Linked DNA regions of Homo sapiens. The protein of the gene in region 1 purifies or fractionates together with the protein of each later gene. This does not show direct contact. Each region holds a gene or a part of one and is shown in the gene's direction. Other genes may lie near its edges. The genes, in order: BTBD8, LYSMD2, RBM26, IMPACT, EPS15L1, TAF8 and BAZ2A.

Evidence for each region.
Region 2: the proteins of BTBD8 (region 1) and LYSMD2 purify together in Homo sapiens (affinity purification with mass spectrometry; one large-scale study listed by BioGRID and IntAct). This does not show direct contact.
Region 3: the proteins of BTBD8 (region 1) and RBM26 purify together in Homo sapiens (affinity purification with mass spectrometry; one large-scale study listed by BioGRID and IntAct). This does not show direct contact.
Region 4: the proteins of BTBD8 (region 1) and IMPACT purify together in Homo sapiens (affinity purification with mass spectrometry; one large-scale study listed by BioGRID and IntAct). This does not show direct contact.
Region 5: the proteins of BTBD8 (region 1) and EPS15L1 purify together in Homo sapiens (affinity purification with mass spectrometry; one large-scale study listed by BioGRID and IntAct). This does not show direct contact.
Region 6: the proteins of BTBD8 (region 1) and TAF8 purify together in Homo sapiens (affinity purification with mass spectrometry; one large-scale study listed by BioGRID and IntAct). This does not show direct contact.
Region 7: the proteins of BTBD8 (region 1) and BAZ2A purify together in Homo sapiens (affinity purification with mass spectrometry; one large-scale study listed by BioGRID and IntAct). This does not show direct contact.

The regions. Positions count from the first base shown.
Region 1 is NC_000001.11:92,086,845-92,090,344, forward strand, and holds part of BTBD8 (BTB/POZ domain-containing protein 8), read left to right. Parts: intron 1-1,853; coding exon 1,854-2,051; intron 2,052-3,500. UniProt on the Homo sapiens protein: Involved in clathrin-mediated endocytosis at the synapse. Plays a role in neuronal development and in synaptic vesicle recycling in mature neurons, a process required for normal synaptic transmission.
Region 2 is NC_000015.10:51,731,156-51,734,655, reverse strand, and holds part of LYSMD2 (lysM and putative peptidoglycan-binding domain-containing protein 2), read left to right. Parts: intron 1-2,795; exon of another isoform or gene 2,796-3,500.
Region 3 is NC_000013.11:79,357,756-79,361,255, reverse strand, and holds part of RBM26 (RNA-binding protein 26), read left to right. Parts: intron 1-1,569; coding exon 1,570-1,681; intron 1,682-2,822; coding exon 2,823-2,982; intron 2,983-3,500. UniProt on the Homo sapiens protein: May be involved in the turnover of nuclear polyadenylated (pA+) RNA.
Region 4 is NC_000018.10:24,450,670-24,454,031, forward strand, and holds the end of IMPACT (protein IMPACT), read left to right. Parts: intron 1-109; coding exon 110-178; 3' UTR 179-2,862; downstream 2,863-3,362. UniProt on the Homo sapiens protein: Translational regulator that ensures constant high levels of translation upon a variety of stress conditions, such as amino acid starvation, UV-C irradiation, proteasome inhibitor treatment and glucose deprivation.
Region 5 is NC_000019.10:16,398,971-16,402,470, reverse strand, and holds part of EPS15L1 (epidermal growth factor receptor substrate 15-like 1), read left to right. Parts: coding exon 1-150; coding exon of another isoform or gene 151-165; exon of another isoform or gene 166-1,882; intron 1,883-3,500.
Region 6 is NC_000006.12:42,071,024-42,074,523, forward strand, and holds part of TAF8 (transcription initiation factor TFIID subunit 8), read left to right. Parts: intron 1-323; coding exon of another isoform or gene 324-445; intron 446-3,500. UniProt on the Homo sapiens protein: The TFIID basal transcription factor complex plays a major role in the initiation of RNA polymerase II (Pol II)-dependent transcription.
Region 7 is NC_000012.12:56,595,096-56,599,326, reverse strand, and holds the end of BAZ2A (bromodomain adjacent to zinc finger domain protein 2A), read left to right. Parts: coding exon 1-198; intron 199-315; coding exon 316-459; intron 460-543; coding exon 544-709; 3' UTR 710-3,731; downstream 3,732-4,231. UniProt on the Homo sapiens protein: Regulatory subunit of the ATP-dependent NoRC-1 and NoRC-5 ISWI chromatin remodeling complexes, which form ordered nucleosome arrays on chromatin and facilitate access to DNA during DNA-templated processes such as DNA replication, transcription, and repair.

The DNA.
Region 1 (3,500 bases):
GGACTTCCCTGCCTCTGGAACTGTGAACCAATAAATGTCTGTTCATTATAAATTACCTATCCTGTGGTATTCTGTTATAGCAGCACAAATGGACTAAGATAGGTGAATACAGTAGTGGGCAAAGATATGAGATGGAAAGAAGCTGGGCCTTGGCATCATTGAGACTTCTCCAGTCTGTCCTTCCTCTGGACTTTACTATTCGATGGGCCAATAAACTCCTTAATGTTTAAGCCAGTCTAAGTCAGATTTTCAGATTTGTAACATAACAAAATATACTTGAAACTGATAAAAATGGTTCTATCAAATAAAAAACACTGTATTTTCACATTAACAATTTTATACACACTTTTTTTTTTCCATTTAGCAAGTACTCATGAGCATCTGTTAGCAACAAGGTGGGTTCCCTCCTGATGGTTGTATGGCTACCAGCTGCAGTGCTTCCTTATTCACTTGAGGGGTGGGATGGGGGGAAGGAGGGTGGGAGGAAAGAACAAATTGAGTGTTTGTAGAGTTTCTATTTCAATTAAAGTTTGAGAGTCCAACACATTTTTGTGTAACTTTAAAAATTACTTATGAAAATAATTTATTGAAAATATTGACCAAACTAAGATGCATCTATTTGGCCATTATTTTCAAGGTTCTGAAAGCTTTTATGCTCTGAAGCATTTGTTTTGTCTAGGGTAAAATAGGATCATTTAATAAGAAGATACTGAACTCTTGCTGTATACTGAAGATACAGTTTTTGTCCGTGGGGAGTTCATTGTCTAGTGGGGAGAAAGACATGTAAAAATAATAATGATGCAATGACAGAAATGCTATAATAGAGGTATGTACTGAATGTGATGGGATTAGAGGAAGGAGCCATTAACTTGGTCCTGGGGGAGTATGAATGTCATTGGCTGCTTTCCAAGCTTTCACTGTAATGGGTATCTTTATCAGTTACTTGTACCTCCTGTAGTGTACTGGTATTATTGCCAGTTTTATATATCCTGTAATACAGAAGTCCTCTGAGAATGCATACCTTGCTGATGATATTGCTATAGTGATATGAAGTTTTATTTAATATTTAGAGAGTAAAATAGTTACTGCAAAGAGGCAAAAGATTATATTATGACATTTTCTATTATGTTGATTTCTATTCTTCTATCACTCACGTATACATGTAATCAGTGGGCTTTACAAGAACTATATCTGTACATTAGCAAAGGGATTTGAAAGGATCACGAATCCATCATTTTAATGATAGATTAGAGCATAATTCTATTTGTGGGAGTGGGAGACTGGAAAAGAGAGTAAATGTCACATTTTTGACAGCCACACCTGGATTTCAGACTTGTTAATTAACATTAGCCAGAACTAAGTACCAGTTTCTAACCTGAATTTTCTACTGATATGTGTGGTTTGTTGCTGTCATTAACTATTAACTTTTTTTTTGCTTCAATTTAAGTAAGATTTTAAAAAATTGATTATTTTAAATAATTAATGATCATGTCAACTTTGCATTTTAAAAATAAATCTAAAGAAGATAGTATATCTAAAGGAAAATCAACATAAGTAGCAGAAAATATTTTTTTATTATCAGAAGGAATTCATAAGTAAATATTTTGAAACAGTAGTCTTACTCTTTTAGTGAAATTGTCTTTGTTTTCACTATGAATTTTAGAAAATTAGGCTCTAAGCCAATGTTAAACAATGTTTTTTGGAATGAACTGAGAACAAACTCATTTTTGTATTAACTTTATGTTGCCTCTGTATTTTTTAGCTTATGTGTTATTTTAAACCTACTTTATAAAAATATGTATACGTTTTTTAGTATCACTAATTAAACTATGATTCCTTTTTATTCCTTATAGGCTTCTAAGGGAAGAATTCCATACAGATGTTACCTTCTCTGTGGGTTGTACTTTGTTCAAAGCACACAAAGCAGTCCTTTTAGCAAGAGTTCCTGACTTCTATTTTCATACTATTGGACAGACATCAAATAGTTTAACAAATCAGGAGCCTATTGCTGTGGAGAATGTTGAAGCTTTAGAATTTAGAACGTTTTTACAGTAAGTGCTTTCTTTATCCATGTAAGTCTAATATGTAATTGCTTATTTTTAACATGTATGTTTTTATTTAATATATTTTCATATGTATTTTGTAACCTGATAAGAAAAATCCATTCACTTAAATTCCAAATTATCTTAGTAATTAGTGTTGACAGAGGCTAAGTGTTAATATTAGTACTAGTAGTACTAATATTAGCTTAGTACTGGTAGTACAATATTAGCTTAGTACTGGTAGAGGCTAAGCATTAACCTAAGACTGATCCTGAGAAAAGGGAAATGGTGTGCTCTCCAGTAATTTAAATGAATTATTCTATTCCAGGGTTTCTCAGTAGTGGCACTACTGGCATTTCAGGTTGTATAATTATTTGTTGTGGGGACAATGCTGTGCATTTTAGGATGTTTAGTTGTGACCGAAATGTCTCCAGACATTGCCAGATGTCCTCTGGAGGTCCTAATTGCCCCCTCTTGAGAACCGTTGCTACGTACTCACTCTGTATTGTTGGCATGTGAAACTTTAAAGTATGTATATTTATAAAAATATAACGTCATAACTGTTTTTATTCTCATGGCTTATGTCTTAGTCCATTTGGGCTGCTATAACAAAATACCTTAGACTGGGTAATTGGTGAACAATAGAAATGTATTGATCACAGTTCGGGAGCCTGGGAAGTCCAAGATCAAGGTGCCAGCAGATTCAGTGCCTGGTGAGGGTTAGTTCCTTGAAGATAGCGTCTTCTCTGTGCCCTCACATGGCAAAAGAGATAAACAAACTTTCTTGGGTCTTTTTTATAAGAGCACTAATCTCATTCATGAGGATGGAGCCCTCATGACCTAATCATCTCTCAAATGTCCCACCTCTTCATACCACCACATTGGGGATTAAGTTTCATCATATGAATTTTGGGGTTGGGGGGACACAAACATTCAGACCATAGTAACTTGTATTTGGTCAAATTGTTTTTTGAGAACAGAACATCAATTTGACTTTTTAGTAATTTTGGGGACTCATGTTTGAACTCAGAATTGTCATCAGCTAAATAATGGGAGAAACTAGTTTAAATTAATCTTCATTCTGTACTTTATTTCTTTCTGTTGTTGCATATTATTTCATTGTATGGCTATTCCATATTTTGTTAATCCATTCGTTGCCATTTAAATTGTTTCTATTAATACTTTTTGGCTATGATGAATAATGCTGCTATAATACGTATATACAAATTTTTCTGTGAACCTGTGTTATTTTTCTTGAGTATATACCTAGGAGTGGGATTGCTGGATTATATATATGGTAACTATGTTTAACCTTTTGAGAAACTGCTGAACTGTTTTCCAAACTGGCTATAATATTTTACATTCCCACTAGCAATGTACAAGGGCTTCAGTTTCTCCACATCCTCGGCACATTTGTTGTTATCTTCTGTATTTTTTTATTATTACCCTCCTTGTGGA
Region 2 (3,500 bases), on another chromosome or scaffold:
AAACAGTTGACCTTAACATACCATGTCTGTCAATCTTGCACAGATGAGCAGAAACTCTCAGGAAAGCCTGTCTCTCCATGGCAACTCCTCAGCCACCCAGCTGGGTGTCAGGCAGGACTTCAGTCCTTTGGTGGAAGACTGATTAAGAGCCAGTCGTAGTCTAGGTACAAGGAAGTTCCCAGAACAGAGACTCCGACAAGGGGGTGAAGATGGAGACCTGGTTGCCAGCCCTGGATTACAAGGGTAACAAGCTGGGAGCCATTTTCTGAAGTGGTGCTGAAGGGCTGGCAGCAGGGCATATCTCAGGATGTGAGAATAGATCCATGTTCCTCAAATTGGCCTGGGCAGGACAGGAATACTCTGGGGCAAACTAAAAATAAAGGATCCTAGCTGACATTGGATCTATGGGATTGGAATACCCAGAAAAGGAGTCTAGGAGTCTCTGTTTTGTTTGTTTGTTTGTTTTTGTTTTTGAGACAAAGGCTCACTTTGTCACCCTGGCTGGAGTGCAGTGGCCTGATCTTGGCTCACTGCAACCTCCGCCTCCCGGGTTCAAGCTATTCTCCTGCCTCAGCCTCTCGAGTAGCTGGGACTTTAAGCACACGCCACCATGCCCGGCTAATTTTTGTATTTTTAGTAGAGATAGGGTTTCACTATGTTGGCCGGGCTGGTGTTCAACTCCTGACCTCATGATCTGCCCACCTTGGCCTCCCAAAGTGTTGGGATTACAAGCGTGAGCCACCGCATCTGGCCAGAGTCTCCATTTTTAACAAGCATGGCTGCTTTGCTTGTTCCCAAAGCACTGTTCTTCCTTGGGGTTCTTGCACTTGCTGTTCCATCTGTCTTTCTCTAATAGCTGGATACAGGGCTAGCTTCATGGGCATGTGACCTGCGCAGTCACAGAAGACCCCATGCTTAGAAGGGCCTCACACTTGGTTTAATGCTCTACTGTCATCTCTTGAAATTTTTAATAGTTTGTGAACAAGGGCCTCACATTTTCATATTTTTTTACTGGCCCTGGGCGAATGATGGAGCTGATTCTGGCTGAGTGATTTGTTCCCTCATTGCCTTCAAGTCTTTGCTTAAATATCTCATTCTTAAGGCCTTTTCTGCACACTCTATGTCAAATTGTAGCCTTTCTCCCTAGTCCCCCAGCGCTCCTCCCCAACTTCCCTGCCATGTTTTCCTAACAGTATTTATCATTCATCCAATTTTTTTTCTTTCCCTCAGAGCTACCTTTCTGGTGATACAATAGTGAGTAAATAAAAATCCATGTCCTCATAGAGCTTATATTTTAGTTAGTGGAGACAGTAAGTAGAAAAAGAAAATGTATCTTATATTGATAAGCATAATGAAAAAAAAACCAAGCAGGAGAGGGAGTTGGGGAGGGCTCGTGGAGATGGCTGGAATTTAAAATGGTGTGGCCAGGGAAGACCTTGCTGAGAAGGAGGTAAGGGAGGGAGCTGTGCAGATATCTGGTGAAGAACATTCCAGGCAGAAGGAATAACCAGTGGTGCAAAGGCCTTGAGGTGAGAACATAATTGGCACCTTCCAGGAGTACTGTGGCTGGTGCTTAGAATGCAGTGGGGTATAGTTGGACTAGATCACTTTGGACCTTGAAGACCATTGTAAGGGCTTTGTCTTTTTCTCTGAGTTGGGATGCATTTAAGGGGTTTGAGCCGAAGAGTGACATAATCTGACTTGTGTATTAAAACGATCACTCTGGCTGCTGCTTTAAAAATAGTTTGTAGGGAAGCTAGTACCAAGCAAGGAAACCAGATAAGATGGTGGCTTTTGCAGTAATGCAGGTGGGAGAGGATAGCAGCTGGGACCAAAGCAGTAGAGAAGGAAGGAGGTGGTGAGATGTGGCTGGGGTCTGGATGATTTGCTGATATGCTGTAAATGTTCTGCTTGTTTGTTTACTGTTTAGTTTGAATATCTCTCCCCTAGAGATGGGCCTGGGCATCCTGGGGATGGGAAAGAAGAATCTGGAGTTTCAAGAAGCTGGCTAGGCCTGACACCTGATGGACCCAAGTTCTTCTGCTAGTGACTTAGGAAAGATCATTATGACTCTTTCCTACCATCACCTTTTTAGCCATTAATAGCCATTAAAAACTGGCATTCATTATTTTCTTAACCAACTTCTATTGAGTCTGGTTGGTTTGAGGCCTTGGGCTAGATGCTGGGGCTAGAAGGTAATACATGTTGTTCTCTTTTTATTCATGGTGAGTTTTTCAGCTACTGCTTTCTAGTAGTTTCTAGCTACTTGAGAAGCCAGAGAATTTGTTTCATTGATGTTTGTATCTTCTGTGGCTAGCCTGGAGCCTGGCATGTTGTGAGTTCTCCGCATACATGTGGACTTCAGCCACAGGAAAGCTTGACTGGTATGAAGTAGCTAGCCATGGAGCTGAGCGGACCCTGGAAGTCAGGATCCAGGGCAGGGGCTGAGTGAAGAGGTGTGGCCTGCTGAAGACTTGAACTGCAAGATTTGGTTTGAGGCTCATTCTCAAATCTGTAAAAGACTGCTGCCCTTGCTGGTGCTCAGTGTTCATCTCCTCCCCTCCACCAGCAGTGGGTCTTTACATGGAATGACATATAAGTTTAGGCTTGAGCAGCTCTACCAGAGGAAGAGGCATTTGAGGAAGTGGGTCTGGGAAACTGAAACTACTTGGGGTGGGTTGAGTAACCGTTAAATATAGTTCAAACCTCAGACGTAAACTTGCTTGGCCTGGCATTCCCCTGGGTGTGTTTATCTCCACTGAGACATTAAGATTCCTTCCCTAACCCTGTATTCTAGATTTAGCTATTGCTTTTTCAGTGATCCTGGCTCCTCTCAGTTAGAGTCAAGCCTCTGGAGGAAATTGACCAGCTCTAGGCTGCCACCGTGAATTTTTGTGCAGAAACCCTGGAGAAACCTCCAGAGAGCCATATAGAAACTGAAAGTGGAAAGGAGGCAGCCAGGTGGACCTATGATTTGCATAAACTTTTTCTTTTTTCTCTTTGCTTCCTCCAGGCAGCTTGCCTGTCTTTTTCCCTCTCCAGAGGCCACCTCACCCCGCAGTACCCTCAGTTACTTCCTAGCCAGTTTTATTCCCAGGATTTTCTCTTCCTCTGCCAATTAGCTGCTAAGCCAAGTTGTTGCTTAACATTTCCGCTAACGAAAGTTACCTTGCTGAGAAAAGGTGAAATGATTGTCATTTTTGGGGGAATAAACATTGTGATTTAGAAACTCAGGTGCATGTAAATCTTTAGTGTTCATAACTTTAACCCCTGCTGCTGGTGGAGATTGCTGACCCTTGCTAGTTAAAGAGAAGATAACTATAAATAGAGCCACCAAAAGTGAGAGGTATGGCAAAGTAGCCTTTAGTCATTCGGGGTGTTTGTAGATTCTCATTATTTTTTTAAACACCTTTATTGAGGTTGTACACCACAAAATTCACCCATCTTAAGTGTACGATTCGATGACTTTAAGTAAATTTACAGAGTTGTGAGGCCATTGT
Region 3 (3,500 bases), on another chromosome or scaffold:
TCTCTGTATGTATGGCATATGTGGGTAGTCATATATCAAATATGACTTGACTGGGATGATTGGGAAAATGGTAGTTTCATTAATAGAAATGTTTAAGAAAAATAAAAGATAGACTTAATATGAAAATAATTTGAACGTTCTGCATAGTGAGTTTTGAGATACCTGTAGGATTTCCAGAGAGAACAAAGAAGTTGAAAATTTAGAATTGAGTATATGCTCTCCTCCTGCAGGAGACCATAGCTGTGGCCATGAGAGATATTGTGCTGAAACAGATCTTCAGTTCTTTTGGTTAGTTAGGTGTTTAGAAATATGTAAAAATAGGATTTTAGACAAATCAATTTTGCCATCTATAAAAAAGGAGTTTTTAAGTTACATTTTTCTATGTGGATTAAGGTTTGCATGTTTTAAACTTTGGAGTCATTTGGGAATAACAGGTTAAATGTACTATGCTCATTACATGCCATGTAAGTAAATATAAAATGTTGAAAGTAACAGACTTTTACAGCTCTTTTACACTGTATTTTAGACTTGAATCTTTTCCTTTTTTAAAGCAAGTATGCTTTCATTACATTCATATTTTATGAGTCTATTCCATATTTAAAAGCAGCTCACTTCAATCATAACTCTAACCTTTCACTTCTCAAAGATTATTGGATTAGTGTAAAGTTTTGAATCTTTTAGATTGTGCATTTGATTTCAAAACTATGAACTTAAAGCCTCAAAGTGATTATTTTCTCATTTGTGCATTGATATATATATATATATTTGTGGTGAGGGTGATGGTAGATGGGAACAATGACTTGGGTTTTATCTACAAAGAAGTGACCTACAGAATCACATTTTAATTTGGCATGTGAGAATTGATTCTTTTTCATAGTTAATTGTGAAATGAATATGTTGAAATAAGTTTGAAAAAACCCTTAGATTACTGTATTTGAATGTACAGTAATTCCCCTTTGTCTGTGGGTGATATGTTCCAAGACTCCTCGTGTGTAAAACCACAGAGTACCAAACCCTACATATACTATGCTTTTTCCTATACAGTCACACCTGTGATAAAGTTTCACTTATAAATTAGACACAGTAAGAGCTAAACAACAATGTCTAATAATAAAATGAAATAATTATAACAATATACTATAATAAAAGTTATGTGAATGGTCCCTGTCTTTCTCTGTCAAATATCTTTTTGTATTTACCCTTCTTGGGATGATAGGGGATGATAAAATGCCTACATGATGAGATCAAGTGTTGGAGCAGGATGGTGTGAGATTTTATCACACTACTCAGAACTGCAGGCAGTTTAAAACTTAGGAATTGTTTACTATTTCTGTAGTTTTCCATAATTTTGGACTGTGGTTGACTAGAGATAACTGAAATCGTAAAAATGAAACTGGATAAGGGGGAGCTACTATACATTTATTTCTATTTCTTCTAAAAAAAAAATTATATATATATATATATATTTAGACAAAAGCCAGAAATTTTCCTGTATGAGGAAGGTATCTATGATAAATAGAAAATATTAACCTATGCTTATTTTTTTCATTTTCTTTTGTTTTAAAACAGAAAAGCCTCCCAATAAAAGCAGTATGAGGATAGTAGTGGACTCAGAATCAAGGAAAAGAACCATTGGTTCTGGAGAGCCTGGAGTTCCTACAAAGAAGACTTGGTTTGATAAGTAAGGTGGCCAGGAAAATTGAGGAGTATAATTGTGCATTGATTTTCAGGATCATTTCTGTATTATTATGACAATATGGTTTGGTTTCTTCCAAAAATGTTACTCTGTTCTGTAAGCAATCCCCAAGTGTGAGTTTTCTAAAAATTGGCAAGTTAGTTGTCTGATGTTAGAAAAGCATTTTCTTACAGAAATGGTGTGGTAGTTCAGGGCATAATTTTTTCCTCTTATCATTTACCCTCCTCCAAAAAACCCACTCTTTAACTTAGACCTGTTGAATACTAGCTATATACAGGATAGTCATGAGCCTCTCATCATTAGAGGAAGGAGGTATAGATCAGACCTGTCAAGAGACTTTCATATGTAGGCAGTTCCTGCTAGGTAGGAGCTAGAAAGGGCTTTTGTGGGGGTTGGAGAGGCTGTCTAGGCATTGAATGGTCAAGAAAGAGCTTCAGATAAAGGGGTAAGGAATCAGAATGTTAAGATATGTGTGAGGTGATTCATTTATAAATAAATCTGTGAAGAGAGACTAGGATCACTTTTAGAGCTTTAACATCTACTTAATAATGGATAGTTTCTAGTTGTTTGTGATTAATTCTGTGATTTAATGCAGAGTAACCTCTCTAGGCCACAGTTTTGTCCTTTCTTCAAGTGTCAAAATGTATTCTTTATAGTTCCAACAATTCTTTTTTTCTTTTTTTAAATAAAGCGGGAAAGAGGTTGAGACTGTCATCAAAGAAAATAAAATTTAAAATCAAATTTAAAACATAAAGTTTTAAGATAGGATATTTTTTAGTAAGCTGACTTTTACAGAATCAGAATAAAGGTTATATATGCAAATTGACTAAAAGAGGATATTGAGACTTTTCCTGATAGGAATGTTAAGTAGAGGTGGATCAGAAGTGGAAAGTAACAAATGATATGGCAGAACCCTTCTCAGTTGGCTTCCATGAAAGATACTAACAGTGTTCATTTGGAAACTTCATTGTTGGAAGAAAATTTAAATTTCCTTTATCAACCAGTAATTTCAGTTTGGGGGAAAATTGAACTTAATTGGATATCTATTTTGTTAAACTTTATTCCCTTGTATTTGGTTAGGGTCAGGATTTATAAATGTATTGACTAACTTGAATTTTGTTTGCAGACCAAATTTTAATAGAACAAACAGCCCAGGCTTTCAGAAGAAGGTTCAATTTGGAAATGAAAATACCAAGCTTGAACTTAGAAAAGTTCCTCCAGAATTAAATAATATCAGCAAACTTAATGAACATTTTAGTCGATTTGGAACCTTGGTTAACTTACAGGTAAGAGCCATGAAATGGTTTTGTTATCTCTTCTTTCTGTTTAGGGAACTTAATGTAATAAGAAAACTACCTTTATAAATAAATATTTTAAGGCTGGGCATGGTGGTTCACGCCTGTAATCCCAGCACTTTGGGAGGCCAAGGCGGGCGGATCACCTGAGGTGAGGAATTCGAGACTAGCCTGGCCAACCTGGTGAAACCCCATCTCTACTAAAAATACAAAAATTAGCTCGGTGTGGTGGCAGGCACCTGTAATCCCAGCTACTCGGGAGGTTGAGGCAGGAGAATTGCTTGAATCTGGGAGGCTAAGGTTGCAGCGAGCCGAGATTGCGCCACTGCACTCCAGCCTGGGTGACAAGAGCAAAACTCTGTCTCAAAAAAAAAAAAAAAAAATTGTTATTCTGAATTGGGAAAATTGGACATGAAATGGAACTCTACCTTTTAGGAAAAAATACAATTTTTAGTGTTTCAATTGATCATATTATCATAAACTTTTTACCTAATAAAGGTTGTCATAAA
Region 4 (3,362 bases), on another chromosome or scaffold:
TATGAATATATGTGGAATATATATGTGTAAATATATTCTAAGTGATTAGATTGAAGATTTCATCTTTATGTAAATGGAGAGATGCTGCACTGATTTGTGTCTTTTTCAGGAGGAGTCATCTAAGGCTTTGGGAAAGAACAAAAAAGTAAGAAAAGACAAGAAGAGGAATGAACATTAATACCTGAAACTATAGGAAAGGTTAATTTGCCTATAATTATATATACATTCCATAGTCATCAAGGAATATATTGTGCAGAGAGAGTATCCTTGACTGCTTAAGTCAGCCAGTTCAGCATGGATACCAACATTAGCTTTTCTTCTTGGTTATATCATCTGCCAAAAATAGAGAACTTATGATCTATTCATGTGTGTTTCAGGCTTATTTGGGAGAACTAATTTGAACTTAATCACCACTTCATCTAATTTTAGCAAGGTAACAGTTGCCCAGGGCAGTACCTGAATTAACTGTCCATTTCAGTACATGTCAAGTGCCTTTGTTAGGTGGAGAAGAAATGTCTCTAGAGGAATATAAATACCTGATTTCTTGTCATCGAGATTCTTGTACTGTTAAATGAATATTGCCTTTTACTGCTCTTTATGGCTTATTGGAATAGGAGCTCATTTAAGATTGATCTTGGAGAGTTTCTTCTTGTGATTTTAGTTCATAAGTATGTCACCTTTCATTTTATAGTGTTCATCATTGAGTAATGGATTAAGTGAAAATCCAGGAGTATCCATCTGCAGTTATGTGCTGAGGTGATAATTCATCCAACATATTTGTTAGCATAAATATTATGCTTCAGTTTCTGTTGCAAATTGGTGATTGTGAAATTACAGAAAGTGATTTTCTAGTCTGCTTTTTTTGTTTAATTCTTGTAATGTAAGCAATAAATATGGAGTGTCAGTAGTCTCCTTCCACCCCAGAAATGTGTTGGTGTAACATTCTCGTTTCTTTTAACAACCTGGAAGTACCTTTCTTGTGATCTTCACTGAGGAATTAGAACTATGATAGAAGTTAGGCTGTGGCAAATGGGACATTCGTAGAGTGGGATAGAGGTGGCAGAATGAACCTGGTGTAGGGCAGGAGTATGTTGTGTAGTTACATCAATTTGATGCATGCTTTCCATCTGCACTCCAGACGGCTTTCTCAGTTCCAAGATTTTGCAGAGAGAAGGAGCAAACCTTTTCATTGGAAAAACAGAAACAACCCTCCCCCCCATTTTTTCCCCTCTATTCATCAAACCTTTATGTATCTTTCATCTTCCAGTTACCTCTAGGCATTTAGATAGTGAAATTTACCTTTGAGATATAACAATAAGTGATTAACTGTTCACTTTCAGATGTAATGGCAAACAATTGTTAAAAGTTATTAACTGATCACAGATTTGCCTGGACTTCCCTTCCCAGGGAGGGAACAGAAGTTAGGAGGCAACTTTGGGATGGTGCTAGAGCATGGAAAGCACAGAGAATTGGACAAACAGGTCTTTTTCTCTTTTCTCTGATGTTTTACCTTTAAAAGATCCAACATCCTTACCGTTGGTATTTTTAGTAAGGTTATAGTAAATAGCTTTACACCAGGATGGATTCTGAAATATAAATTCTAAATTATATTTGTTATAACTATATTTTATGTTGTATGTTATCAGGAGCCATCAGAGAATGACCTTTTTGTGTTTGGAACACTTGGTTCCATGAAAAGTATGCTTTGTGTTTTAACTGTTAAAATAATTTAAAAATTAATTATTTTACATAATTAAAGAAGTTAAAAACTATTAACATTAAATAATTTCACAATTTCAACATGTCAAACCTATGAAGGGAGATAGGAAACAATGAGAAACTTACTTTTGCTCCTTTATACAGAATTATTAACTATATTTTACTAACTAAAAAACTCTAGTATTCTTTACCTAAAGTCAATTGGCTGGTAAGAGGGAGAGATGCAAAATTCTCCAGCTCTGAACTTGGAGCTACTTCACACTCTACTCTTAATGGAAACTTGAACTAATGATAGATAGTATTTTTTTCCTCTATTTAAAATTTTTGTCTTGATTAGGAGATTTTTCAGTTCTCCATATAATAATTTTCTACAATCAGATCTATGCTGTGGCATATTTTGCTTTATTTAAAAATTTTTTTTTAGAGATGAGTTCTTGCTCTGTCACCTAGGCTGGAGTGCAGTGGCATGATCATGGCTCACTGCAGCCTTGACCTTCCAGCCTGCCAAGTAGCTGGGATTACAGACAGGCATGTGCTATTACACCTGGCTAATTTTTAAAGTTTTTTTTGTAAAGATAGGGTCTTTCTATGTTGCCCAGGCTCGTCTTGAGCTCCTGGCCTCAATCGATCTTCCTGCCAAGGTTTTGGAATTACAGGTGTGAGCCACCATGCCTGGCCTGCTTTGACATATTTTATAGTGTGTTAATTACAAATAGTCTTCATATGCCAGAATATAAGAGCAAGTGTTATCTACTTTTTAGATGGGAATTGCAGAAGCTGCATCAAAAGTATGCTTTGAGGTATATATAGTGAAACAGAGCCTTTCTGAAGAGAATTATATCAAACTAATTACAACCAAGAAATAATAGTATGAAGCGGATGCTGTTTGGAGGACAGGAAAATTTATCGGGAAAATTACATAATCCCTCTGATTCCACTATCCAGAGATAGCCATTATTATTAATATTTGGTATGTACATCCTTATATTATTTTTTTCTTATGCATGATTTTGTATATATGGTTATTTTTCTTTCCATAAAAATGGTATTAAACTGTATATACTGTTTTGTAGCCTACATATTTCATATAGAAGTATATTGTTAACATTTTCCATGTCAATAAATATTCTTCTATGGCTTAAATGTCTTATGACTGCATTGTATTCTGTCTTCTCAGTATTATACTAACTAGTCCTCCACTTATTTCCAATTTTTAAGTTTTTTTCAACTTTTCACTGTTATAAACAACTGTGAAAACCTACATCATTTGCAGATTTTTGTATGTATCTTTGATTATTTCTTTAGGAAAAGCTCCTAGATATCGAATTTCTTGGTCAAGGTTTGTACATTCTAATAGCTTTTGATTAGTTGAGTCAGATTGTCATCCAGGAAAGTGTTATCAGTGATTGCTCCATTAATATTGTGTTGGAATATTTAATACCAGCCAAAGATGGGAAAAAATAGGCAGTTTGCTTGATAACTCCCAAGATCCTTTTTAAAAAAGTAAACTTTTTGGCCAGGCACAGTGTCTCACGTCTGTAATCCCAGCATTTTGGGTGGCTGAGGCAGGCGGATCACTTGAGGTCAGGAGGTTGAGACCAGCCTGACCAACATGGTCAAACCTGTCTCTACTAAAAATACAA
Region 5 (3,500 bases), on another chromosome or scaffold:
TCCCAGCTGCATGAAAGCCGCCAGGAGGCCCACAGGAGCCTGGAGCAGTATGACCAGGTGCTCGATGGAGCCCATGGTGCCAGCCTGACCGACCTGGCCAACCTGAGCGAAGGCGTCTCCCTGGCAGAGAGGGGCAGTTTTGGAGCCATGGTAAAGGTTGAATAAACGTATTACAGTATGGGGCTCTGGTCCCCTGGTGTGACAGCAGAACATCCCACCCGCCAGATCTGTTCATGGCCAACGTTGGTTCCAGCCAAGTGCAGGCGGCTGTCTGTTGTTTTTGCTGCCACTTTGCGCGTTCACACCAGGCCTTGCAGCCTGGCACAGGTGGCCATGCTGAATCCTGGCTTCCAGAACAAAGTCCAAGATAGGCCTGGATCCTTTCAGAACCTGTTTTGAATGCCCTCCATCTCTGCGGAAGTATTTACATTGGGCCAACCACCCAAGTTCAGAGGGCTTCTCAAACTTAACCAAAATTGGATCAGTTTCTGCTCATTGTGGAAACCCCACATTCTACTAATCAGGGGGCAGGGGACATCTGAGGGGCATGTGTCTATGTGTATGTGTGTTTCCACAAGGAACACCTTGAAAAGCAAATGTGTTGCTAAAGATGAGGAAGTAATGGCAAGCAGCGCCCCAGGGTGTTGCTCTTTCAAGTAAGAATTGGCCTCTCCTGAAATTTTGGTTATGTTTAAAAACCTCTGCACTTTACTCTGACCTCATGACCCTGGAGTTGTGATCAGGCCTGGGGCAGGGGACTGTCGGCCCCTTACATTTTTGAGAGCTCTTGAGCCCCTGATACCAAGACAGGTGTGACCTTTTCCTTAGGTGGTCACATCCCCCCTGTTCACACCAGAGTCTGCCCCTGCAGCCTCGAACCTGGGGACATGTAGTTTCCCATTTCGTCTTGGTGCTGTTCCGGGAGCGGATGGGCCGGGCCGCGCATGTCTGGATGTTTCCTTGGTGCTCTGCTGCCTCCAGCAGCTCTCTCCGTGCTGCCACCCTCTCTCCCAGGGCTCCTCCCTGGAGCCCTTCTGCTCCTGGGCCTCTGTACGTCATGGATTCCTCTTCCTCCCTGGAATAAGAGTGAGCGCTCGTGCTCTCTAAACACCACACTTGCCTCTTTATGTTCAATGCTTGATGTGTTTCTTTTCTCAGCAGCCAAGTCCTCAGTCCCAAGGATTTATGGGGAAGCACACGCGTCCCCTGGGCTGCTGGGAAGGCACTGCTGGCGAGCTCATCTGTCTCTTGTGTCTGGCCCCCGCTGGGTGCACCGCCTCCCTCTTTCCTCCCATACTCTCTTTTCTCGTGGACTCGTAATGAGGTGGTTTCCATAGCCGCCCCCGGGCCCGTCATCATCAGCTTTATCGTCTAAATTTAAACGATGAGCATTCATCCTTCATGAGTTACGAGAAGCCAGAACTCCTCGCTTTGCTCCCTGGCTGTTCTTGGCGTGTGTGTTTCCGTCTCACAACCCGGCTCCTACTTTCCCCATCTGGCATTGTCCCCTGGCACCGCTTTTGGCTTGTCCTGCTCAGTCTTCGTTCAGGGAACAGCTTCCTCTTAAATGTCCCTTTTGCAGGTTTTTAGAAACCGGTTTTCTTGGATAAAAGTTGGCAGTGAAGTGGCAGTTTGCAAGTGGCCAGTGATTCCCCCAACTCCAAAGACAGATTTTTACCTTTCTGGTTATTTTTGTTCATCTTTTGGGCAGGGCAAAGGTTACCTGAGACACAATTACTTTGGGAATGTAGATTAAGATACGTTACATGGAAACTTGCAACTGGCATCCGAAAGAAAAACTGTTTTTATCCTGTTGTACAAATACAGTTTTTAAAGCATTTTTCTGGCTTGTTTCTATTTCTTAATAAATACTTGGAAGAGAGATTTTTGTTTACTCCTGAACACTTCAAGACTGCTTCAGAGCCGAGAGAGAGGTGTCTTAGTTCTCCCTTGTGGGTCGAAGTTGGGGGTTTTAGGTCCCTGAGAATAGTGTATCCACAGTGGTACATCTGGAACTTCCTATGTTTGGACAGTTCTACTCAGGTTACTAAATTCCATGTGAAGCTCACGCAGTGTGACTTTATCTCAAAAGTCAGGGGTTTTTTTTTTTTTTTGTTTTTGTTTTTTTTTTTTTGAGACGGAGTCTCGCTCTGTCTCCCAGACTGGAGTGCAGTGGCACAATCTCAGCTCACTGCAACCTCTGCCTCCCGGGTCCAAGTGATTCTCCTGCCTCAGCCTCCCGAGTAGCAGAGATTACAGGCACGTGCCACCATGCCCAGCTAATTTTTGTATTTTTAGTAGAGACGAGGTTTCACAGTGTTGCCCAGGCTGGTCTTGAACTCCTGACCTCAGGCAATCTGCCCGCCTCGACCTCCCCAAATGCTGGGATTACAGGCGTGAGCCACCTCACCCGCCAAAGTCAGGGTTCTTAAAGCCATATTTATTTCTTGTCTATCATCTGATTATGAGAATATTGACCTCTTGCTCACCATCCAATCAACTTATGGAGAGAAGCTAATAAATCATCCCAGACTTAGGCCTTACTGAGGACAGATTAAGAAAGGTTGATTGATCTGTCACATCCAGACCCAGTGGCATGCTGGAGCCAGTTTTTATTGACTTTCCAGAACCGATTATTAAATAGGAACTGGCCGGGCACAATGGCTCACACCTGTAATCCCAGTCCTTTGGGAGGCTGAGGTGGGAGGATTGCTTGAGGCCAGCTGCGTGCCACTGCACTCCAGCCTGGGTGACACAGCGAGACTCAATCTCTAAAAAAAAAAAAAAAACCCCAAAAAGCAAAAAACAGGAACTTGTGAGCTAGTTGCTTGGAAACTTGAAATCAACCATGATGAGACTGTTTACACCACAGGAATTGGCAGAAGCTCTAAACCAGGGCTTTTTTCTGAGAGAACTGATTCCCAGCACACCCCTGCTGCCCAGCACTCCTCTAAAGGGCGGGAATGTCACAGAAGCTTCTTCAGCCCCCTTTCAGAGTTGCCGTGTGTATTTCCTAAGAAGGGTACAACTTCACACTGGTTGCTGAACTTGTTCAAGATATTACATCTCTGCCAAGGGCCGTGTCATTCATCCTGGCCCTTGTCTGCTGTACTCGTGTCCCCCAAGTTGGCAGATGGGTCTGTTCTCCTTAGTAGGTGGTCTGCAAGGGGTAGAGTTGATGGTATCTTTGTAACAGGGAAATCTCGTTTCCCACTCTGATTCTGTGCAATGGAATCAAAACCACTATTAGTTACCCTGACCTCCTGAATCCTGCTGGGGTCTCAGGCTTCCCCTTGGAAGGGGAAGGAGTGATTGTGGCTTCAGGCCAATGACTCCTGAGAAAGTGATTGCAGGCCTGACTGTCAGTGCAGGGGGCTTGCAGCCAGCATTCCCAGAACCTCAGTCTCTTCTCTGCCATTGTTCACTGTTACTTGGCAGTCTTCCAAGTGACGACTGAAAACACTGAAAAAAAAAAACCTTATAAATAAATGCCAATTAAA
Region 6 (3,500 bases), on another chromosome or scaffold:
AGCCCCCTCTTGTTCCTGCACCCTTGGAGAAAGTGCCAAGTACAATCGCAGAACCGCCAGAAGCTGGAATGCCCTTAAGGCTAATAGGGTTATATAGTCAGGTTGCCATATTCAACCATCCTTTAAAATCAGCACTAGTTTGGATGCCTTAGTGGCTGTAGTTGGACTGAGCATCCCTTATGTTCTCTAAGATGTGATACCCCAAATGGCAGCCAGCCACCCTGGGTTGCTAGTGGAATATGCCTGTGTCATCTCTATTTGCTGAAGGTCTTATTTGCCTGGACATACTTTTTTTTTTTTTTTTTTTTTTTTTTTTTTTTTAGATAGAGTCTCGCTCCGTCACCCAGGCTGGAGTGCAGTGGCAAGATCTTGGCTCACTGCAACCTCCGCCTCCTGGGTTCAAGCGATTCTCCAGCCTCAGCCTCCTGAGTAGCTGGAATTACAGGTACGCACCACCACGCCCGGCTAATTTTTGTATTTTTAGTAGAGACGGGGTTTCACCGTGTTGGTCACGCTGGTCTTGAACTCCTGACCTCATGATCCACCCTCCTTGGCCTCCCAAAGTGCTGGGATTACAGGCGTGAGCCACCACACCCGGCCTGGATATACTTTTTTTTTTTTTAAATATTGAATTATTCCTTTCAGAATTAGGGCTGGGAGACCATGGCTTTAAATAAAGCAGAGGAAATTGTTATTGTACGCTTCTGTTAATTTGGGCTGAGATATGGTGATTGGGTCATGGACTAAGTTGAGGTTCACCTTATGAGAAAGAGGAATCATGTAAACAAACGTCATCATACCTTTGTAAGTACAATATAGTTAAAGGGCTTGGACATGCATTCACTGACGGTCCCGTAGTGATGTGAGGTCATGGTGGTAATTGAACCTAAAGAGTGTCAGCAACCGCCTGAGGACTCTTGAATACCATGAGGCCAAGCCAGGGTTGCAGACAGCAGGAGTGTAGGAAGGCCTGAGTCTTAGAGTCAGACTTGCCTAGCTTCAAATCCAGGCTGTGCTGCTTGCCACATGTGTGACCGTGATTGTGTTACTTTACGCCTTAGTCTATTTTCTTGTAAGTAGAAACAGAAACACCTACCTCAAGGGACAGGGGGAGCGTGAGACAGAGCTGGTATCTATCAGGTGCCTGGCATGTGGCAGCTCCTAGCACACACTGCTCCCTCCCCTGCTGTTTTAGGCTATCTAACCATATGCCCTTCTGTGAAAAATAAAATCAAATGACTCCAAGACAAAGATTCTAGTGACAATTTACTACAGTCAGTTGGACCTAATGTTATTTTGTTAGACTAGGAAATACAATCATATGTTTCAAAATGCAGAGTGTGCAAAAAGATGTATGGTGACAATCCCTCCCATCCTGTTCCCTGTTACCCACTTTCCCTCCCACAGAGCAACTGTCTCACCAGCCTCTTATGTAGCCTTCTAGAGACATTTTTTTAAATTGTTATTTTGAACTGAAACAGCAGATCACAAACTGTTCTCTTCTTGCTTTTTTCCTGGCTGTATCTTGGCGGTCATTCCACATCTGTAAGGGAGGAGGCGCATCGTTCCTCACAGCTACTTTATCTTCCATTGTATGGATGTAACCATTTAATTTATCTAGTCCCCCATGAACACTTAGGTTGTTTTCTGTCTTTACCATTTACAGACATTGTTATAGCAAAGTAAATAACTGGTTTTTTTGTTTGTTTTTTTTTTTGAGACCGAGTCTCGCTCTGTCACCCAGGCTGCAGTGCAGTGGCGTGATCTCGGCTCGCTGCAAGCTCCGCCTCCCGGGTTCATGCCATTCTCCTGCCTCAGCCTCCCCAGCAGCTAGGACTACAGGCGCCCGCCACCACGCCCGGCTAATTTTTTTGTATTTTTAGTAGAGGCGGGGTTTCACCGTGTTAGCCAGGATGGTCTCGATCTCCCGACCTCGTGATCCGCCCGCCTCAGCCTCCCAAAGTGCTGGGATTACAGGCGTGAGCCACCACGCCCAGCCAATAACAGGTATTTTAAATTATTATTTTATCTCTTGATGAGAGTGCACCTCTCAAGGTCTGTTGTTAGGCAGTACATTATTTAACCTGGTTCTAGTTTCTCCATGTACTTGAACATAAAGGAGCTATTCATTTTAAATTCATGTATAATTTAAATTCATGTATAATAGATTCTTTTCTCACACATTTGAACCAGCTGCTCTCTGCAGCCAACCCAGATATCTAAGCTTTTACTCTTTTATGAAAAATATACCAGTCACTCACTCAACCAGTGTTTATTTAGCACCTAGTATGTGCCAGATATTTTTTCTGGCTGCTTGGGATAAAGCAGTGAGAAAAACAAAGAAAACCTCTGCCTTTTAGGAGCAGAGTTTGGCTGTGGGAGAATGATACCAAACACAATATATGACTAAATCGTTGCATAGTATATCAGAAATGAAAGTGCTGTGTGGGGGAAAAACAGTAGGGGAAGATCCAGGGTGAGGAGGAGTCTTCAGTTTTTAAGTGGGGTGCTCGGAGTAGGCATTACTGAGAAGGGGATATCTGAGCAGGAGCTTGAAATGGGTGAGGGAGTGAGCCATGTGGATATCTGGGGAAGAGTGTTCTGGCAGAGGGAATGGGCAGTGCAAAGGCCCTGTGGAATAGTGAGTGGCTTGTGGGAGGGAGGGTCAGATTGGGTAGGGCCTTGTAGGCTATTTTAAGAGCTGGCTTTTAACTAAGAGAGATGGGAGTTGTGGGAGGGCGTGGAGCAGAGGAGGGATGTTTCTGAGCTTCTTAAAGCACCACTCTGATGGCTCGGTAAGAACGGACTAGAGAGATCAGTCAGGAAGCTGTCGCTATAGCCTAGGCGAGAGGCAGTGGTGGGCCCAAGTAGAGTGGTTGCCACAGAGGTGGTGGAAGTGGTCAGTGCCTGCCTGAATTTTGAAGGTAAGTCCAAGAGGCTGTGCTAACAGATTGGGTATGGGATGTCAGTGAAGGAAAAGGAGTGTGCCAGGTGTGGTGGTGCATGCCCATAGTTGCAGTCACTTGGGAAGCTGAGGCAGGAAGATTGAGCCCAGGAATTTGAGTCCAGTTTTGGGCAACATAGTGAGACCCTGTTTAAAAATAAAAGAAAGAAAACAAGCAAGAATGACCACAGAGTTTGTGACTCGAGCCATTAGAAGGATGGAGTTGCCATCACTTGTGATGGGAGGGACTGAGAAGCGCCGTTTACACCACAGGGGAAGGTCCCCAATTCAGACTTAGGTGCCTGAAGTCTGAACTGCCTACCTGATACCCCAGTGGAAATGCTGAGTGAGCAGCTGGCTGCATGAGCCTGGAAGTCGGGAGAGGTTAGGGCTGGCATTGTACTCCAGGGAGCTGTTGGCGTAGAGATGGCACTGAGAGCTGGGAGACTGGATGCAGTCACCACAGAGGGTGTAGGCCTTGCTAGAGCTCACAGGCAATTCAGGGAGCTCCTGACGGACCATTCTGCTCCCACTTTTTTTTACAAATCTCTGGGTC
Region 7 (4,231 bases), on another chromosome or scaffold:
TTTCCCAAAGCGTGGCCAGAAGCGGAAAAGTGGTTATTCGCTGAACTTCTCAGAGGGTGATGGCCGCCGACGCCGGGTACTGTTGAGGGGCCGAGAAAGCCCAGCAGCAGGGCCTCGGTACTCGGAAGAAGGGCTCTCCCCCTCCAAGCGGCGGCGACTCTCTATGCGGAACCACCACAGTGATCTCACATTTTGCGAGTGAGTTGAGTGAATCCTGGGGGGACAGTTGGCTCTACCTCTGCCAGAGGAAAGGGCTGGGAGGGGTCAGTATATTTGCTTCCTGAGATGGAGCCATCATTGTCCCTCTAATGATAGGATTATCCTGATGGAGATGGAGTCCCATGATGCAGCCTGGCCTTTCCTAGAGCCTGTGAACCCACGTTTGGTGAGTGGGTACCGGCGCATCATCAAAAATCCTATGGATTTTTCCACCATGCGGGAGCGGCTGCTCAGGGGAGGGTAAGTAGATGTGGGTGAACCGCCCGGTCTTTGCTACTGCTGCAACTCCTACCCAGCTCACAGTTTTGCCCCTGCCCTGTCCAGGTACACCAGCTCAGAGGAGTTTGCGGCTGATGCCCTCCTGGTATTTGACAACTGCCAGACTTTCAACGAGGATGACTCTGAAGTAGGCAAGGCTGGGCACATCATGCGCCGCTTCTTCGAGAGCCGCTGGGAGGAGTTTTATCAGGGAAAACAGGCCAATCTGTGAGGCAAGGGAGGTGGGGAGTCACCTTGTGGCATCTCCCCCCACCTTCCAAACAAAAACCTGCCATTTTCACCTGCTGATGCTGCCCTGGGTCCAGACTCAAGTCAGATACAACCCTGATTTTTGACCTTGCCCTTGGCAGTGCCCCACATCCTCTTATTCCTACATCCCTTTCTCCCTTCCCTCCTCTTGCTCCTCAAGTAAGAGGTGCAGAGATGAGGTCCTTCTGGACTAAAAGCCAAAAAAAGAAAGAAAAAAATAATTTTTCTTTTCTGTTTTATTTGCTAATTAAAAATGGGGAGGGGGAAAGTCGTCCCTACTTCCTCCTCCCTGCTTCCTCTCCTCCCCTGTACGTGCCCCAGCATTCTGGGGTTATTTAACAATAGCAATAGTTCTAGTGAATGTGTGAAACCAAGAAACACTCTGTACTGTGTGCGGACCCGCAGTGACGGCCAGTAAAGTGGACTTAACTCCCAAGTGTGTCGCGCCGGACACCGGGCCCTGGACATGCTGCTTCCATGTTCAGTCCCTTCCCTGCTTCTCGCTGTCTTTCTTTTCCCACCTCCCACCCCCCAGTTTTCAGATTTTCTCTCATCCAATAATGTAAAACTATCGTGTACGGGTTCCTCCCTCCTTTTCTCTTCTCCCAAATCTTTTCCCTTCAAAGGAAAAAAAAATGTTCAGAGGTCCCTGTCTTCTGTCCCCATCTTCCTGCCGATAGCTATCCCCTGTATGATGTTGGATGCTCCTCACATGCTGAGTTTCCAGCCTTTTCTGAAACTCAGTAGCTGGGGAGAGGGCAGGGAGGCTTCCTGGGCCTTCCAGCCTCCTTCCCCACCTCCTTCCCAAACCCTCTTGGGAACTCCTCAGGGACAACTACTGCTGAGTTTGGGTGCACCCTAAGATGGAGGCCAGGTAGCAATGGGGCCGGCCTCAGAGAGAGCGCTGTGTGTGTGTGTGTGTGTGTGTGTGTGTGTGTGTGTCGGCCTCAGAGCGCGCTGTGTGTGTGTGTGTGTGTGTCAGCCTCAGAGCGCGCGCTGTGTGTGTGTGTGTGTGTGCGTGCTTGTGACCCTGTATTGTTTGATAGGATCCATTCAGTTTCCCCAAGTACCTGTTTTCATTCCCATTTTTCCCATTGTTTAAAACCATCACTTTTTTGTCTTTGGGAAACCACAGGAACAATTTCTCTGGAGACAAGGCTGTGTCTCTCTCCTGGTCATTTTTGTTCCAGCCTCTTCAGACTGTGCAATCTTTCAGCAGGAACTCCCTCTCTTCTCGGTAGCTTTGAATCTTAAGCTTCTACGGGAGAGTGGTAGAACTGGATCATTTCCTAATCCCATTTAGTTGTGCTTTTCTTCATTTACTTCATACCCCAGGACCCCTTCCCCAGCAGCAGAGACCCTGGAGCACAGGAGAGTAGGGAGGAGGGGTTCTGGGTCCATCACTGCCCTACATGTGACTATGTCCAAGTTAAGCCCCCAACACGAGAGGAAAGCTGCTGACTCCCAGCTATAGCCATGGGCACTTGGCCCCCTGCTTTTCCTGCTCAGCAGAGCCCCTCCCTTCAGAGATTACGGGTACTTGCACTGGGGAGGTGGCTGCTGGCTGGCCCAAGCAGAGAGCTGAGGCATCCAAGAAATGTTCCATTGGGGGGTGGGGGTGCCAGGTGAGGTGGAGCATTCCTTGTATTCTGGCAGCACTGAAGAGCCACTGAAGGGGGTAGGGGCAGTGTAGGTCCTGGGGCAGCCCCTTTATTCCTTTATGCCCCTTCTCCCTCATAGCCTATTTCTAAAGTCGCCTTTTCTGTCAGATAAACCTCAAAACTTTTAATTTTATTTGAGATTTTTTTTTGCTTTTAAGAGGTGGATTGAAGAATATTTGAATTGACTTTATATTATGCATAAATATTTATATTTTATCTAAATAACTGCGCTGTAACAAACTTTGTGTTAGACAGTTGAAACTGTTAGAGTTGGGGGCTCTGCTTTTTCCCCCTGGCAATTTTCCCCTGGTATAAGATGTGCTAGATTAATTTCATTGTGAGGTGGATGGGGGAGTGAAATTGTGAGGTGGATGGGGGAGTGAAATCTCCATGGTTCCTGCTTTGTGTTCCTCTCCCAGCTCCATCTCTTTCCCTAGGGACCAGGCACTCATATGGCGGGGTGGGGTCCTAGCCTCAGTTTGAAGAAGTGGGGGCTGGAGCGGGGTTGGGGGTGGTAGGGATAGGGCATGATCAAAGGGGCCATTTCTTGCTTTTCTTTCCTCATCTTCACTGCCCCCTTGAGCTAGGTGGATTTTCTCTTCATGACAAGAGTATTTGGTAGGGAAAGCAGGTTTAAAATAAAAAGACAACCCACCCCCTGCCCTTTTGCTTCCCTCCCATCAGTCTGGTTGACAGGAAGAAACCACACCATCAACACCAACAAGTTTCTGTGTTCCTTTTACAGCAAAAGGGACTTTTTATATAACCAAATGTGGTGTTTTAGTGACTTTTTGATAATGTACAGTTTTTTGTGAATTTAAATTTATTTCTTTCTATATTTTTAGGACCAATCTCATTTTTAATAAGGTTAAAAAGAAAAAAAAAGTCTAGCGAAAAAACTCCTGTTTTTGCCATGTGATGTTCCACAAGTGCAGCTGTAGAAAAGTGCTTGTCAGTTGTTGAATAAAAAAAACCACATTTGATAGAGATTCAAAAGACTCTGTGTATTCATCTTCCCTTCTACACACCTGAGGGGGAGACGGCGTTGGGATAGGTATGACTGGCTTAAGAGACCACAGGCAAGGGAACAACAGGGGCTCCTGTTCCATACCCTCTGTGTGGATGGAAAGGGTCATTAGTGCTCCTGCCTAAATGTCTGGCTGAGTTGCTGGAGCAAAGGGGGATTCAGTGCATCCAGGTCCTGCCTTGTGAGATGTGGCCCCAGCTTCCTAAGCTGCCACCTCTGTGTTCCTGTCATAGCAAATATGGGACCATCACCAGCTTACCACTTCCCACTCACGGATAAGACACCAAGACGTAGACTTTTGTGTTTTATTTAAAAAAAAAAAAGTGTGAAGTAAGACAAAATGGACCTCTACCAAGTTGTAGGGAAGGACAAGGAAAAGACCAGGGGTAGAAAAGGAGTGTAAGTTTTAGAATGGTGGCATTGGCATAGATGTGGGAAGAGTATAAAACTAGAAGAAGTCTCCAGATAAAAATATGCAAAATATGTCTGTTTAAGTATAAACATTTTCTGTCCACATGCAAAGAGGTGTTTACCCACCCAAAAAGGGTATATGTTGGAGTGGGGACTTCACTCGCGCTGGATATGTATTACCCTCCAGCCTGGAAACTTTGTCTTGGTGCAACCCCCTAAACTGTATGTTAAGGTAGAAAAGGAACATTCGCTTCCAGCCTTATAAAAATGACAGACTCCCTCTTTGGTGTTTGGTTACCTTCACAGCTATACGCCAGCCACTGAGCAGCTTTCTTGTCCTCTTAAGTTCTAAACTCTGCTCCTATGCTGGTGTCCTCCAACCATT